3 linked regions of the Homo sapiens genome follow. The protein of the gene in region 2 interacts with the protein of the main gene of each other region in a pairwise test. Each region holds a gene or a part of one and is shown on either strand. Other genes may lie near its edges.

Region 1 (3,654 bases), on a different chromosome or scaffold from region 2:
TGTGGTTTAACTGTAAACCTGTATTGAAGAAGTTTCTTTCAACTCTGACAGTCTATGAAAAACTTGTTTTATTACAGAATTCACATATTAGCCACATTTCATACAGTATTATCAATATAGAATATTTTTACCTTGATATTCTGGGCATCAACATTAGCTCCAGCTTCCAGAAGAAGGCTAATGACTGTGGTATTCCCTGCTAGCACTGCCCAATGCAGAGCAGTGTTTTTGTGATACTTGTCACCAAGGTTAACTGAAACATTGAATGTTAAAAGCAATCTAGTTGGATCCACACTGAAAAGGAAAAAAAAAAAAAACAAACAACAACAACAACCCTAATTTCAATTATAGAAATCATTACAAATACTAAACTGATTATGCTTACAGTAGCATTCCATTTTGGAACACTTCTAACCTACTCAACAACTTTAAAATCAATAATGAGACAATATTCTAATATGAAGTATTAAGTATGTATGACACCATATAAAATAATATATTAATAGTTTCAGGGGATAAGCAACTTGGTCCTGATATTTTCTATTTTTGACCTAGAAATGGCATTAATACTTATACAATTCAAGAATAACACTTTTTAAAATTTAAATTTGGAGTCTTCCAAAAGTGATCTAAGACAACTTACTAATTAATAAATTTGTCAATATGTAAATCACATGAAAAAATTAATTAATTTTTAAAAAAAGATAACTTCTTTTCTTAGATATTGTTAAAAGAGAAACAGATTAAGGAAGCTCTAATCAGTGAGGGAGAGACAGCACAGAGATACCAGAACATCCAAAATGGTAATTTATATATACTATAGTCATAATAAAAACTGTAAATATTAGTGAGTATAGTATTAACTGCTTTTTCCTCTCTCTTACTTCATATTGTATTATGCTGAAATGGCCTAAATAAGTTTTTTATAGTCATTACATACCTATGTGTTCTATATGCTGCCCACATTAAAGGCGTCATTCCATTCTGATCCATCATATCTACATCCTGATAAAGTAAAAAGAAAAAAAGTCAGACAGTTAAATTATAAGTTCCTAACCAAATTTGCTTGGAAAAATCTAATCTATATATAAAAGGAGAAGCGAATATAATACTACTCAATCAAGGATAATGTATGAAACTTTCTTTCTTAACTTTAAAATGAAACTCTTGTCACTATATACTCTAGTGAACATATATCATGCTTTTACATTATTCCCTTTTAAGATGTTTTAATCAGCCTTTCAATGTTTCACATTTAAAATTCTTAACCTATTCTGACCTTTCAACCACAAAGGATAGGTTAAGTGATTAAGTTTCTGAAAAACTTGTTTATACTAATGCATAAGAGAGAACGACAAAACTGTTTATTCCTAGGCATTTCAAAACAAAAAATAAAAAGAACTGACATTTTAATATACTCAGTTTTTACTGTTACACATGTACATTTTTAGAGTTAAATGATTCTGCAGTTTGTGTGGAAAAAGCAACACACTAAAGCAATCCCCCTGCCTTACTTCCCACCATTTTCACCATTTTTTGGCTCATTATTTTTATATTTACCTCCATATCTTTAAATAAGATGTTTGAATTGCTACTTCTTGATTTTTCAGTTTCAGGCATTATTCTGAAATTCCTTGGTACAAAAAATCTGAATTTTTCTCTTTCCTCTCTGCTACATCACAAATGCACGCCTTTCCTATTCTTTCCTCTCAAGAGATCTATTGTAATTCTGGTTCATATAAACATTTAATACTTGATATGTATTATTATAAATATGCATAAATACTATTCCCAGCCAAACCATGTAATAAACCACTATTTTTCCTCTTCTACTCAATTTTTTGCTTTCCCTGGCACCATCTTTCCCCCACTACTACTTAGTTTTTAGCAAATTATAACTAAAACTTCCACCTATTAAACCGAAACTCTTTCCTAGTTATCTAATTCTCCTTGCGCAAGACTTTCTGATGTATCAGGGACTCTTATCAGTTTCAATGCTCTGAAACTACCTTTCCTAACCCACTCCATTCTGAACTGATTATCCTCTATGCCTGAAATGTGTGTCTCATTAACCTGGAGTACTTTGAAAATAAAAATCATCTCAAATCCATCTTCGTATTCTCAGTGCCCAGCAGAGTAGATGATCGAAAACCATTTATTAAAGGAAAAGACATGCTTATCTATCTACTTTTCTAGGCTTGGCTTTAGAATAAGACATGGTTTTGACTTCCTAGCTCCATCATATAATTGCTATGAGATTGTAGGCTAAATTACTTTAATTCTTAGTCTTAGCTTCCTCATTAAAAAATGTGAAATACAAATAACTTCATAAGACTTCTGTGAAGATTAAATAATGTGTGCAAAGCATCTAGTCAACAGCTGAGAACATAATGGATATTCAATAAATATTAAGTTTCTTCTTCTTCTCTACCCCATCTCCCATTCCTGAATTACATTAAGCAAGCAGTTCTAATCCAAGTTGTGTTACCTAATTCACCAATCAGTGGAGAGAGCAGAGAGTTACAGTAAGCACACTGTAAAACACTATCTCTATGCATCAGTTCTCTGTGAGCCACTGTTAGCAATAGGAATATGTCTCAAATGTGAACATTATCTAAGCATATTGAAGAAAAAAAATCTGAGAACCACTACATTAGATAAGTAAAGCATTTCCTTGGATGTCATTAACTTAGTCACTCACCATGCATACTGTCATAGAATGTTATGCCTTATCCATTACAAATCCATTTCTGGATTTACTTTAATAGTGTTGTCAGGAATATCTTCTGCAACCTCACTCAACATTTCCAATATGCAAGTACATTTTTTAAAATAATCCTGTGGCTTAAAAAAAATATGTTTTCTGAAGAAACAACAAACTTCCTTATTTCTTATATGAGAAGTAACTATTGTGACTTCTTTTACTCCTAATTTCCGTAGGACCTCAACCAAATTTCAGGTCTAATTAAAGCAAGCATGTAAATTCTTATGTTTAAGTTTCTCCTTCTTCTTAGTTGTGTTTTCATATCCTTTTTAAAAAATGATAGTATTAAAAATATCAATAAATAAAAAAATGTAAAATCATGGCACATCTCTAGAGTACTAAAAGAAAAATGAAATTCAACCTTTTCTCTCTTTGGGTCGGGATTTAAAACTTGGTACTTCTTTTCCAAGTTCAGCCTGGACGTATGGGTATTCTCTATTAGGAAGAATTAACAAGCCCAGATCAAAAGCTTATGGGAATTCCATGATCAACAGGGCTCCATAACTTAGCATTTTCCCCTTTTTCTCCTGAAAATCATCCAAAAGAATTGGTAGTGAGCACTAAATATATTTAACAATATAACTAAAACAAAACGATTGTGAAGAATAGAATGACAAAACTGAATGGAAATGTTATATACCCTGACAATGTAAAATTGATATAATTAACAACAAAATGGGAAAATGGAAAAAGGTTGAAATGAAAATATGCTGAGAGCCTCATCTATAGTAGCCATGAATCAAAGAAAACTATCTAAAGCTGAAAAATCAAGTAATAAAAATGTAGTAAAAATTTATCAGAACATAGTTAACATTAAGAAAAACAATATTATTGACTACAGTCGATAAAAGAGAAAGGGAAGAAGAAATAAAAATATGCTAATTTTATTA
Region 2 (3,654 bases):
CTTTGGAAAATGAGATTTAAAGCTCCCAGGATCCGGCTCTCGAGGATGGGGCTGTTGGTGCTTCATCTCTGAACTTCAGCTTAACTGACAGGATGCGCTTTTGGTAAAGGAGCTCAGAGAAGCTTTACCATTTGTTGAAAGATCACTGGTGATAACAGGCACATGCAGTGAGTGAATCTGGATTGAGTCCTGGATGGGGTTGGGGTGGGTCGCCAGAAAGGACATTTTGGGCAACTGGGAAAATGTTAGTATAGACTTTATAATAGATGACACTACTGAATTAATGTTATTTTCTTAGGTGTGGCAACAGTAGAGGAATTATGTAACAGAATGTCCTTATTCATAGGGAATAAATGCTGAAGTATTGAGGAGGGAAGTGTCATAACGTCTGCAACTTACTTTCATATGGCTCAAAAAAAGTGCACACATAGATAAAGCAGACATGGCAAATGTTAGCAATCGGTGAATCTAGGGGAGTGGCAATTGGATAGTTATTATGTTAGTCTTTCAACTTTTCTGTATACGTGAAAATTTTCAAATAAAAAGACGTGTGTGTGTGAGGGGGTAGTTAAAAAAATCAAGGTTAAAAAAAGAACACTGGACATGCAGAAGATCTGCGGTCTAGACTGGGTTCTGTAATTAACAGTGAACTTGAGTTGCTTGATAATTTTTTTTTTGAGACATGGTCTTACTTTGTCGCTGAGGCTGGGGTGCAATGGCATGATCATGGCTCACTACAGCCTCGACCTCCTGGGCTCAAGTGATCCTCCCACCTCAGCCTCCCGAGTAGCTGGGACGACAGTGGCATGCCACCATGCCCAGCTAACTTTTTTTTGTAGAGACAGGTTCTTGCTACGTTGCCCAGGCTGGTCTTGAACTCCTAGGCTCGAGTGATCCTCCCACCTCGGTCTCCCAAAGTGTTGGGATTTCAGGTGTGAGCCACCATGTCAGCCCATAATATTTTCAATAACAACAGTGATCACAACAGCAAGGACAGCTACCTCCTTATATATGATGTGTGAGTCACCTCTGAGCACTTTACATATATTAACTTGATTGAATCGCCACGACCTTCCAATGGATATTATCATTATTTCCATTTTTTAAATGAGGAAACTAAGGGACAGAGAGTTCCAGTAATTGGCCCAGGCCACACAGCTGGTAAGAGGCAGTCAGATTTGAACATGGGCACGAATACTTTTACGAGATCAAAAGAGAAAGCACCTTATAGAGTATAAAACACTATGAAGATGCATTGTTTTATTATTTTTAGCTTATCAAAATAGTAAGGTTGTAACTGTAAAACAGGGTAACATCTAAAACAAGTAAAACCAGGGCCCCTGGCGCCGGCCACTGCGGCCACCAGGTGGCAGCGCGGCGCACCCGGCGCCCGAGCTGCGAAAGGGACGCCCTTCTCCTCCCGCGCGGAACTTCAGGAGTGCGGGGCCCGAGTGTAAACTGGACCACCGTGGGGCCGCGCGGGCCCCTGGGCATCACCACAAACTGTGCCTGTGGCCATCGTGTCAGGACAGCAGGACCCCTGCACATCCGCGCCGGCCGTTACCTCCTCGGCTCCGGTGACCGAGTACGCGTGCCCCTTCACCAGCTTCTGAAACGTGATGGCCTCCGAGTCCGCGGCGCTGGTGATCTGCAAACACAGCAACCGTCAGACTGGCCGCACCCGCTCTCCCTTCCTCCCGGACTCCCTCGCTCCCTCTGTCCTACTGCCGGGCGGGACCGCCGGACGCACTAGCGCAGCGGCCGAGGCCTGGGGTGGGAGGCTCAGGGCTGCGCTTTCTTGCACTTGGAGAACCTTTCCTACCCCGTTCAAATGCTTGAACGCCGAGAATACCAGAGAAAAGGCGGAATGCAACCCTCTCGCGGAACGAGCACAGGCATTCCCGTGTGAATAGCGCATCCACGGATTTCTGCAGGCTGGGAAGGGCGGGAAAGGGCGCACGGCCGAGAGAGGGCTGGAGGGGGTCCTCGATGGCGCAGGGAAAGGGCGCACGGCCGAGAGAGGGCCGGAGGGGGTCCTCGATGGCGCAGGGCTGATACCCAGACAGCCTTGAGTGGCCCAGGGACACTGAGCACACCCTCGCCCCACCACCAGCCCATGCTCCGTGGTCTGGCCCAGCCCAGCTGTAGGGTTTATACTAGGACGGTTGTTTATTCCGGTCTGAGTCAGAATTTGCTTCTGTTTTAAGAACGCCTCACAGCCTCTCCTTTCCCCTATCTATTCTGATGAAGGTTGAGCCTGGGAAGAAGGGCTGGAGCAGAAAGGGTCTTCTGCCTCAACGTGTTCTGCTGATAAACTTTGAGAATTCCTGCCTAGGGAGTCTGACCTAGATTTTGGCTCCAAAAGCCAGGGCTTCTTATCTCTGTCCCCCGCAGAGACCAGAACCTGGATGGGACAGGGCTCAGAGGTTGGGCACAGCCTTTGCTCCAAGGCTCCTGGGCACAGTGCCCACCTCCCATCCCCTGGTGAGCGTTGCCAGCAAGGCTATTATGAGGAAATCTTTCCTCCTCTTCCTTCCGAAGTCTCCCACGGGCCTATTAGCTCTGCAAGAGTGCAGGGGAAGGCTGCACAGCACTGCAGATGGAGGGGAAGGTGGCAGGGGCAGCAGGTGGCAGGGGCTCCCAGGGAACCTGTGGTCAGAGGGGTGGGGGTGATTCAGAGCAGGCTAAGAGTGGGAAGTGGACTGAAGACAGAAGGGCTGGAGGCACCATCACCCCATCCATTACACCCCAGACAGCTTGACTTTTGCCTAGCAACCCTTGGCTTCCAGGTGATGAGCAATAATGGTAGACACTGGGGTGCTCAGAAACCAATACCTCTAAGAGATGGCACTTTGAAATGCTAAACTGAAGAAGCCTCAAGATCTCTCTGACCTCCCCTTTCCTTCTGTCTCTCGATCCACTCTCCCCCAAAGCACAGGAGGAAGCTATTCTCTGAAGTTCCCTCACCTGCCTAAAGTCTGGACCTGCCAAAGATGAAAACAATGACGTCTGGTCCTTTCCATGAGTTATTATGAACTGAACTCATATTGCAGGAAGAAAGACAAGTCTGTCAACATGGCTAGACAGACTTGTCACAAACCACTGTCTGCTCTGCAGGCCCAACAGACTTTATCCCAGACCATTTATGTTCTTTAAGCCCAATGAATTCCCCTAAAAATCATTTACGACATCCCTAAAATCATCCGCACCTCCCCATCTCCCTTCCCCTAAGAGGAAGGGAATATAACCCTCTGTATCCCAATGCGTGGTAGGGAAATCTCTTGTGATTCTCCCCTGTCCACATTCATACATTTGTATGCCATTTCTTGTATTAGTCTTCCTTTTGCCAGTTGATTTTCAGCGGACCTTCAGAGGGTGGAGGGAGGTTTTCCTTTGGCCCCTACGTGGACGAGGGCTGCATTACGTTGTACACAGGAGCAGTGGGTTCCCTTGGGCACTGTGGGAGCCTCCCTTCAGCAAGAGCAGATGGGGTGAGGCTAGGGAAGGCAGCCTGGACTTACGTCGATGGAGCAGCCAAGGAGAGAGCCTTTTTGCAGAGCTTTCTGGATGATCTTGAACAGGTTGGGAGGGGGCTTCTTCAACTCATACCACTCAGCAATGCCTCCGGTGAAGTCTTCGAAGCCCTCAGTGGTG
Region 3 (3,654 bases), on a different chromosome or scaffold from region 2:
TATAAGAAGCAATCTGTAGCTGTGCTGCTGTGAGTGGAGGCTGAGTTTACTCAGCATGAACTTTGCAAACGTGCTTGGGAAGAGTGTCTTTTCAGAGCTGGCCCATGGGTGTGTCTGTGTGTGTGCACACGCACATGCATGCATGTGTACAAATGTGCACATACACACATGTATACCACAGAGAAAAACACAACAACTGAAATCGATTGTTGTTCTCAGAAAACATTCCAGAAATTGATCTTCCTCTTTCTCAACAGGTTAAGATACTAGATTCAGCCTATAAGTCAAGAAAAGGAGCTTAGAAGTAAACAGTACTGCCATTTTCCTTCTCTGCCTATCCAACTCCTCCCCACCCCCAAACTCTTAGACTTTTCTAGTAAAGAAAGTCTCTGAAGCCTGGGGATGGGGGGAGAAGAAGGTCAGTGACCCCACTGTTCCCTTTCTCCCCAGCACAGGGTCAGGGCTTGGACAGAGCCCTCCATAGCTCCCCCGGACAAAGAAGCCTTGTTCTTTCCTGAGATCTCAGGAGCCTGATTGGTATTCCACAGGGGCCTGCAGCCGGGGGGTGGGGAGGGGGTCAGACTCAGGGAACAATGGCAGGACTGTTTGTTTAGCCGAGGGTAAGAAGAGCCATCCACCCTAGCAAGTGACCATCTTGGGCCTACTCACTCATCCCAGCATTTTCATCTGGGAAGGGCTAAGTGCTTGTGCAGGTATGGTCAGGGATGGAGGAACTTGAACTCTTGCTAGCCAAAAGAGAACTCCACTTTAAGCGTTAGGTGATGCCACCTCTAGGGTTGCAAAGATGAGAGGGAAACATCCTCTTGAGTGTATCTGATCCCTCAATCATCATCCAAATAACCTGAGAGTGTCATGGATTGTGTTCTTACTGGGTGATAAATGGCTAAGCCTTAGGAGCAATTCTGAGTCACCAGATCATAGCCTTTCTTTTTACATCCATTTTTCCTCTATTTTCTTAGAACTTGAATAACTTAGCATCCCCTTTTCTGCTCCACTACAGCTCAAAGCAAGGGACAAGAAAGAAGTAGGCTTTAATGAGTTTCTAATGTAAAGTCTGAAATAAATGACTTTAGATAAATCTATCACTATTAAGCTATAAACAATTCAGTAATATCAGCATAAGCATCAGATGTTCATCTCTTCACAACCTAGATGAAATGTTTGCTTTGGGGGCATTTAAGTTCAGCAGAAGTGAAGAATCTCAGTCAGTCTGTCCAAGCAAGAATCAGATTTTAGATTCTAACTGAGAAAAACTCAGAGCCTGCAAGAAATTATTTTTTCATCAAAGTAGTTGACAATCAAAGCATTCTGAGAAAAGATCCATTGGGCTCCCTTTGATTTTTCACAGTCCAAGAAATGTCCCTTGGGTATGTGTGAACAATAGCCTAAAGCCAAAAGCTCTCCATTTCAGAACCCCTCCTGGTTGAAAGGGTGTGAGTTTGATTCAAGAAGGCTGGAAGAGATTCTAGGGGAGAAGTTCCTTGGCTCTCTCAAGAGACATTCTCACATTTCCAGTCTAAGTACAGACTGCGAGATGAGAGAGTTGGCATAAAAGAACCATATAGTAATAACATTTCTCAATGCAACTCAGTCAGATTAAGCCACCTGACTTTGATGAAAGGTCATAGAGAAAAATAATGACCCCCTCCAGTGTTTTTCTTTCATTTCTGTTTATGTGAATTCAGTACAAGAATTAAGCACACTAGCAGTGACATAGACATTAGGAGAAACAGAAGGGAATTAAAAGGCCAGTCCCTTTCTTTAGAAAACTTGAAATCCTGTTGGGGTGAACAAACATATGTCTGTGAATCAAAATCTAAAGCTACCTATAAGCAAGTGTTAAAATGGATATAACGAAGTTGTGTGGGCAAAATGTAAGCAAAGGGAAAAGATCATGTCATGGTTGGCTACATTTGTATACAAACTCCCAAAACAAGTCTAATCAATCTGTGATAGTTGATACTCCAACTTTAAGCCCTTCTCACCAGCGCTCTTCACAGCGGTCTGACAGAGATCAACAGAACCAATGTGACTTACACAGATCCAGGTTCATCAAGGGACTGTGTTGATCCTGATGCTGTCTCTTTAAGCAGGCACCAAGAGCTCCCAACCCTCCCTCCCTCCTTTCCCATGCCCTGGGCCCGCCTCAAGGACCAGCTCCATGATGGAAATTCAGTGTGAATCTGGGAACTCATCAAAGGAAGGAGAGGAAGGGCTTTCATCGAAAGGAATGGTAGAAAGAGACCAATTGTACCCTGCACAATTCCCAGCCTGTCCCTTGAATCCAGCTGACAAAGGGAGAGATAGAAGAACCCTATACAATAGAGCTAAACAACAGGCAGGCTCATTGAGTGAGAAACTGGCCCCACCTCCCTAGGTCTCGAATCTGCACTACAGTCTTACCCTCCTCCCAGAACCCACCCCTTAACCTTACCCCATGAACAGAGGCCTCCTTGATCAGGGCCTGCAGTAGTTGACAAGGCCGAAATGCTAGAGCAGCCGTGACTGGTACTAGGGATGGATGGGGATCAGTGGGTGGGTTCTAGGAGTAAAACAACAATTATCAAGAGGTGCCAGAGACAAACAAAGACTTTTGCTTCGGGCCTCGTCCTGGTCAGACAATGCCCTGCCTATAATCTTGTCTTTCCTACATATCCCTTTTGATATCAGCACTTATATACCACATTCAAGTGCTGGAAAACAGTCCCGAAGTCTCTGGGGCCTGGGAATCCAAGCCTGCTGGATAGTCAAATCATGTGGACAAGGTTAACTAAAAAGGAATCTCAGCCTCCTCTTTGGACACGATTTAGTATTACCACGGCAACAGCATCTGGACTATCTTGTTTCCTATACTCCCCACTCCTCTTCAGACGCGCACACACACACACACACACACACACACACAGAGAGAGACAGAATGAATGATGTACACATTCCAATTTATGTGCAAGCATTGGGAAGCTGAGGTAGGACTTTGATTGTTAAAACTTATCCTTGGCACATTGTCTCCACCTTGCCCACGAATGGGAAGATGAAAGGGAAGTAACTGGTACTAGAGACAATAGTAGCCATACCTTGTTCCTCAGGTCAGTCTCCCACCATTTCCTCCTCTCTCCTTGTTGCAGTGTGAAGCTGATTTGGGGAACCTTATTCTCTTCCTTGGGACTCTTTTCTAGAGCCCTGCCTGGCAGACAGCTCAGAGGCCAGTGCAGAGCTGAGAGATAGCCCTCAGGGCCATTTTGCCGTAGGCAAGAGGGATTAATCAATCAGTACTTGCTGAGCTTTTGATGTAAGTTTGGCACTGAGTAGGCTCTGAAAGCAGGAAAGGAAGGAAAAGCTGCTCCATTCACCTACCATGGCTGCTGTGACCCTTCCTGATCATGTCACTGTCCTCACTTGGTCTTCTTTAGACCTGAAGTGCTGTGGGCAGGGAAGGCATTTCTACTGTTGCTTTCTTTCAAGACAAAGACCTGTACCCAGGGGATGGCTTTCAAGGCTTCAGGACGATAGACAAAAGCAATGGGGGAAAGTGATGTTACTGGCTGGAGTTCTACCTTAATGGGTTTGGAGACTATATTTCCCCTCCCACCCACCTCCCAGGGTTGAGGTTGTTATTACTCAGATCGCTCTGAG

Evidence for each region.
Region 1: the proteins of CAPN2 (region 2) and ZDHHC17 interact in a two-hybrid assay, tested with the Homo sapiens proteins (one large-scale study listed by BioGRID and IntAct).
Region 3: the proteins of CAPN2 (region 2) and PLP1 interact in binary tests that used the Homo sapiens proteins (3 or more experiments, as listed by UniProt).

What each region holds. Positions count from the first base shown.
Region 1 is NC_000012.12:76,812,497-76,816,150, reverse strand, and holds part of ZDHHC17 (palmitoyltransferase ZDHHC17), read right to left. Parts: intron 1,006-3,654; coding exon 941-1,005; intron 295-940; coding exon 132-294; intron 1-131. UniProt on the Homo sapiens protein: Palmitoyltransferase that catalyzes the addition of palmitate onto various protein substrates and is involved in a variety of cellular processes.
Region 2 is NC_000001.11:223,747,033-223,750,686, reverse strand, and holds part of CAPN2 (calpain-2 catalytic subunit), read right to left. Parts: coding exon 3,522-3,654; intron 1,649-3,521; coding exon 1,565-1,648; intron 1-1,564. UniProt on the Homo sapiens protein: Calcium-regulated non-lysosomal thiol-protease which catalyzes limited proteolysis of substrates involved in cytoskeletal remodeling and signal transduction. Proteolytically cleaves MYOC at 'Arg-226'.
Region 3 is NC_000023.11:103,779,712-103,783,365, reverse strand, and holds part of PLP1 (myelin proteolipid protein), read right to left. Parts: intron 1-3,654.